Regions from separate parts of the Homo sapiens genome. Here region 1 is linked to region 2. Evidence: fine-mapped expression QTL. Tissue or cell type: ileum. Region 2 holds a variant in brackets; the other region holds the start of a gene. All regions are shown on one strand. Distances are from middle to middle.

Region 1 (2,914 bases), 78 kb after region 2:
CTGGGAGGCCAAGGAACATGGAGCTAGGCCTGCTGGGCAATGACTGGAAGCAACACTGCTCCCAGCCCCCAGCCCCCACAATGTAGCATATGGCTTGGTTTCAAATCCCAGTTCCACTGCTGTAATGTGGCGGCCATTCTCCCCCTGTAAAGGGCTATCTGGGCATTGGTCCTGGTGTTTAGTGCTTTATAGAATTTGACCTCAACTTTTAACCCTACTATCATTAAGTCTGTATCAGAGAATCAAGTGGTTTAACCAAGCTTGCACATACATGAGAGCCACACGTGAGAGCTTGAACCCAAACTCAGGTGGGCCTAGCTCCAAATCCACATTCTGTCAGTTGCAACCGTGTTTTTTCCTCCTCCTCCTCCTCCTCTTTCCAGCATGAGACATTGGGCAAGTTACTGTGACCTGTGGACCCATTTCTTCATCAGCAAGAAGAGGACAAGAATGTCTACCTCCGGGGGTCACTGTGAGGGTTAAAGGAGGTAGTTATGCAAAGCACTGGCCAGTGGGCTTGACAACTGCTTGACAAGAAGGGTTTGACAAGAGCCAGGATCTTGGCAGATGACGGCTCTGCATGCTCCCAGAGAAGCGGGAGGCAGGGCGGTGTGCCCAGGTTCCTTCCAACCCCTGACCCAGCATGTAGAGGAAGAGGCTGCTACCTGTCTAATATCTACGCTCCCTTTACTTGGCGTTGGAGTCCTGGAGTTTCCTCGGGGCACTTTCCAGTCCCGCTCGCAGTCAGGCGTGGATGTGACTGAGTTCTAGCTGTTGGGAAAATGGAGAAGTTATGGTGCAACTTCTGGGACATGCCCTTAAAACAGGCTTGCCCATCACTTTCTCTCCTCCCCTTTCCACTGGCTGGAATGCAGATGGGATGGCCGGGGCTGCGAAGGCCAGGGTGGACCAGGAAACCGCTGCCTTGCATGGAAGACGGCAGGGCAGGGAGAGAGGGGGTGGGAGTTGGAGAGAGAGGGAGAGAGGGGGAGAGAGTTGGAGCCCTGTGGGCCACAGCTGGCTCACACTCACCCTGTGACTGTGTGACAGGGAACTTCACCTCTGCTGCTGTCTGGACTCTAGCTGGAGCCAACTCCTGGCTTTGGATGCCCAGAGTGAAGCGCTCAGGCCTGTGTGGAAGTGGTAGCGTTCACCTGTGGTCCCCACCACTGCTACAGGAGCAGACAGTGCGAGGCAGAGTCCCAGGATGCCCCTCCCAGGGCTGCACCTCTGGGCAGGGGGAGGGACGAGGCCCTCTGTGCTCTTGGCTCTTCTACACGCACCATACTCACCTCTGAGACACACCCGCTCAAGATCATTCCATTTTCTAAGGAATCTGGCGTCATGCCCCTACGCCAGCATCAGAAGCACTTCTTACACTGTGAAGGCGCTATTTGGATTTTGTGGGCCAGCACACCACTGAGCACCACGGAAGCCACTGCTGAGAGCCACCGTGCTGGGGCACCTCCGGGTTCCTGTTCACAGCAGAGCCACCCTGCACGCAGGCTGCGCCACGGCATGACCTTCTCGGGCTGCCCGCTGTCTGAGGGGCGCCTGAAGGTGAGATCACAAAACACAGAACACGATGTTTACCCGTGAGCATACGCTTGAGCTCATGAGGTTCATGGTGACTATGAAAACGCACAAGGAGGGCAGGTAGCCCAGGGCCCACGGTGCAACCAGTGGGCGCAACGGTGCCGTGAGCTGGCGCTGCGGCCGTGAAGCTGCCTCCTGGAGCCATTTCGCCCCTCTGAATGGCGCTCGGGTTATTTTCAGACAAAGGAGCATCAACTGGAGGTTCTGCCTTTTCGAATGGATGGAATTACATTCCCAACTTCTATTTACCAGAGTTTCCAGGAGAGAATCACTCTCAGGAGGGGCAGACAGGATCAGGACTCTCCACGGAATCAACTTCATGGCTTCTAAAGCAACTTCAGGAGGCACAGGAATGGGGAGACCTCTCATCTGGGTGGGTTCCCCCTTCCCAGCTCATGAGAGGGGCAGATGCCAGCAGGCAGGCCTTGAGCCTTGGCTGGTGGGACAAGACCAAAGTCAGCCACCAGCAATGTCTCCAAGACTGATCCCAGCACACAAGGCAGGCAAAGAATTTTCTCAACTCTTTTTATTAAGTTAGAAAACTGATAAAAGCAACACAACTTTTGGGGAAAGCACCATGGCACGTCCTTTGTGCTATGTGATAAGTGTGCTTTATCTCAATGAAGCAACCCCACGGGTCCAGGCACCCTCCCTGCAGTCCCCGCGGCCAGGCTCCTGAGTGTGCCAGCAGAGCCGTCCCCTGGGACCACAGCCAAGTGCCTTCGGGCAGCTGGCCTGACACAGGCGGGGTCTGCTGGGTCTACAGGGTCCAAGGAGCCCCATGCAGCCAGTGCCCCATGGCGGGCGTGTCAGTGGGCAAACCCTGCCCAAAGGTCCCACCCCCAAGAGGCCTCCAGGACCCGCACCAAGGCATGGGGGACACTCGTGGCTGCTTAAGTAACTGGTATGTGCACAGCCCCCTCCGCGGCCCTAATCTTGAGCCAGCCAAGCAGTGTTCACACTGCAGGTGCCTGGGAAGCCCCAAGTTTGGACACCCTGCCCAGTCCCTGTCAGGGCACCAACACCCCTCCCTCTCAAATGGTGGCTTGGGAGTGAGCGAGAGGCATTAGGATGGTCACTGACAGGCGCCAACCTCTCCATAGCCCAGGTGTCAGGGAGGTGCTGGTGAGGGACCCCAGTGACTCAGGAGGTGACAGCAATGAACAAATGTTCAGCAGTTCTCTCGGGGCCATTCTTATCTTGGAGCTCAGGGAGCAAATGGGGGCCAAAACGCAAGAGGATGGTGAGGGTCCCGTCACTGTCCTCCACACTGAGATGGATGCGGCCCTGGTGGGATCTGCAGGGGACACCCTGGGGT
Region 2 (2,914 bases):
GACACAATGGAACCCTAAAAATACGGAAGCTTGCAGAAACTTTTTGAATCAAGTATCTTCTCAAAATGTGTTCCTTAAATTCAAAACTACTAGTAAGAATTATGTGTGGGCAGGGAGAACCAAAAGAAGGGAGGGGTTGGTTCATGGCCAAATATTAGTAAATTTAGGAAACTCTGGGTTAAGCAGGTTTAAAATGCTAACGTTGTGTTACGTTGTGGATTTTCAAGGCAGTGTTCAATATACTGTTTCTCCCAAATGTATTAACTAGAAAACCACAATATGTGCAGCACTGTATACAACATTTCATGAAACTGGTGTTCCACGGAACACACTCTGAAAAATATCAACTGTGTCCATCCAGTAGTTCCACCCTGAAGTTCCTGGCTGTAGTATAAATCTGCAGGTTATTTCATGCCTTGAAAGATAATCTAGTTGAAATATATTATTTACCCACAATAATACTTTGCAGGCTAACTTTAATGACAAGTTTCGTTTCGTTTCATTTATTTTGTCCATAATTTTGTCATGGAAGTAGCATTGGTTGTTTTCTACCCTTAGGTGCTCTGAAAACTTGATGATACTTTAGGAATTTCAGAGGCATTGGTGGATTAATTACTGTGTTCAGAACCACATCTAAAAGGTCATCATAACTTAACTAAAATTTTTAGCAGTGGAAAAGTTGAAAATATTATAGGAGTCATAGATTCTCCTAGTACTCAATCACATATGTGTTCAGTCTTTAATTTATTCCACACATATCTGCTGGAAGCTTATGATTGGCCCTGCTTTGTGTTGGTTGGTATTTTTCTGCATTATGAATTTTATTTTTATTTAGTTCATATTACTAGGGTGGTAACTTACTAGGTAATTGCTTAAATGTATAGTAGAATCCAGGCAAGCTTAGAAAATTTAATGCTGCTCCTATCACTGAAGTTTCCTTGGGCAGAAAAGGTTTTAAAACCACTGATTTAAACTATCCTCTTGATTTTTTTTTTAAGTACACTAATGCATCATAAGATTAAAATGCTGATATTTTACACCTAGATTATGCAGAACCTGGGGATGGATCCCAGATATTCTTATGCTGCTAATCTTTCCCTCTTACCTGGCTGTTGTTACCATGTGTTGTAAGTGAAATGAACAGAAGAAGAACCCTAAACTGGGAAAAAGGAAAAAAATACGGAAGGCAATCTTTTGAAGACTTAGAATTTGTTTTAAGGTTTCTTATGTATTATTCCTACCTGTTGGCAATTTAAATTTAGCCAGGTGCAATGGCTCACCCCTGTAATCCCAGCACTTTGGGAAGCGGAGACAGGAGGATTGCCTGAGCCCAGGGGTTCAAGACCAGCCTGGGCAACATGGCGAGTCCCTGTTTCTAAAAAAAATTTGTAACAATAATA[G/A]ATAAAAATAATAACTACAGTTTTGGATTTCTGTTCAGAATCTGGAACAGTTTGAGAGTTGAAGAGTTTCAAATGCGGGTAATCTGGGAGTTTTTTTGTTTGTTTTTGTTTTTGAGATGGAATCTCGCTCTGTTACCCAGGCTGGAGTGCAGTGGCGCAATCTCGGCTCACTGCAACCTCGACCTCCTGGGTTCAAGCAATTCTCCTGCCTCAGCCTCCCGAGTAGCTGGGACTACAGGCATGCGCCACCACGCCTGGCCAATTTGTGTATTTTTAGTAGAGAAGGGGTTTCACCATGTTGGTCAGCCTGGTCTTAAACTCCTGACCTCAAGTGATCTGCCTGCCTCTGCCTCCCAAAGTGTTGGGATTACAGGCATGAGCCACCGCGCCTGGCCCAAATGCTGGTAGTCTGGTAGTAGAACATCTTCAAATCTCTATCAGATTAAAGTTTTGCTTACAGTAATCTCAGAGATCCTTGAAACCAACCTCAAGGAAAAAGGAAGGTGTTTTGTCTAAATCGTTAAAATAGTGTTACAGAGTAACCTTTGTTTCCCTGGAATATACATGGAAATAGTTCTATAACTGATGTCCTGAAAATTGAAAATCATTTATCACTGTGACTGAGGTCTTGCTCTCATCTAAGTCTTCAGTAACTCAATCTTTATTAACATGTGGTAGATAAAAATAATAATATTCCTTCTATTTTTTCTTCATATTGCCCTATCTGACATAGTCTTAGAATTTTAATGACCTGCGGCAGTTTATGGTCCAGTGGTTGTGGAAGGAAGAAGTACGCATCTGCCTCATTCATTTTTATCTCTATTAGCCTGGAAAGGACTTTGCCATCTGTTTTATCTCCCTCATTTCACAGATGAGGAAATGAAATCCAAAGGTCTCATCCCAAATTAGTGACAGGGCGAAGACTTGATAAGCCAGCTCTGATGCTCTTTCCTGTTTGCTAATCTATTTCTAGCAATTCTCATGAAAATATTAGAGATGAGCTAGATCTTATAGAAACATATAAAAGCAGTATTAACGGATAAAATATGACATTTAATTTCCTATTCTATATTCTTCCTATGATGTCATCTCAGAAGGATGGTTTGTGCAAACTGAAGATTGATAAGAACTGGAATTAAACATGCTTCATATGTGTTTAAGCATTAGAAAAAGTTATTTGGAGTCTTTTTAGTTACTTGAATCCTGGATTAAACTTATTTTCTTCATGAGAAATTCACTACCTACTTCTGGTTCTAATTTGAGGGTTTCAAGTTTAATTTTTCCTTCTTTCAAACCTTTAGAAGGAGGAGGTACCATGTGCTGACTTTCACACGCTGTTTTTGCTTTAGCTGTGTCATTGTGAATTTATAAATATTCTACCCGGCATCAGTGTTAAATTTTTTGGTTCTAACTTTTTTTCTGCCTTGTTTTCTAGATTCACGGCCCTTCCACAGTACCTTCCACAATACCAGTGCTAATCTGACTGAGAGGTACTATAAATTTGTTACTCCTTT

Direction of the effects. Positions count from the first base shown, and alleles are read on the strand shown. Sizes are in standard deviations (SD) of each study's normalised expression.
As copies of G replace A in region 2, the expression in ileum of the gene that starts at base 1,507 in region 1 goes up (moderate effect, 0.45 SD a copy in GTEx).

What was found. PIP is the estimated chance that this variant, and not a neighbour inherited with it, causes the effect. A credible set is the group of variants that fine-mapping cannot tell apart.
Region 1: LINC02883 starts here. The variant in region 2 is the best candidate, but not a certain one, in a credible set for the expression of LINC02883 in ileum (GTEx, PIP 0.64).

What each region holds. Positions count from the first base shown.
Region 1 is chr15:85,757,219-85,760,132 of GRCh38, forward strand. LINC02883 (long intergenic non-protein coding RNA 2883) reads right to left here and starts at 1,507. Exons shown (of 6, transcript NR_120366.1): 1 at 1,293-1,507; 2 at 1,033-1,130; 3 at 666-771. It overlaps KLHL25 (kelch like family member 25), which reads right to left. Exons shown (of 3, transcript NM_022480.4): 3 at 2,108-2,914.
Region 2 is chr15:85,679,323-85,682,236 of GRCh38, forward strand. It overlaps AKAP13 (A-kinase anchoring protein 13), which reads left to right. Exons shown (of 37, transcript NM_007200.5): 15 at 2,836-2,890. Among named protein-coding and RNA genes, the nearest start is that of LINC02883, 78 kb to the right of the region's middle. The variant G/A (reference allele first, on the strand shown) is at 1,401.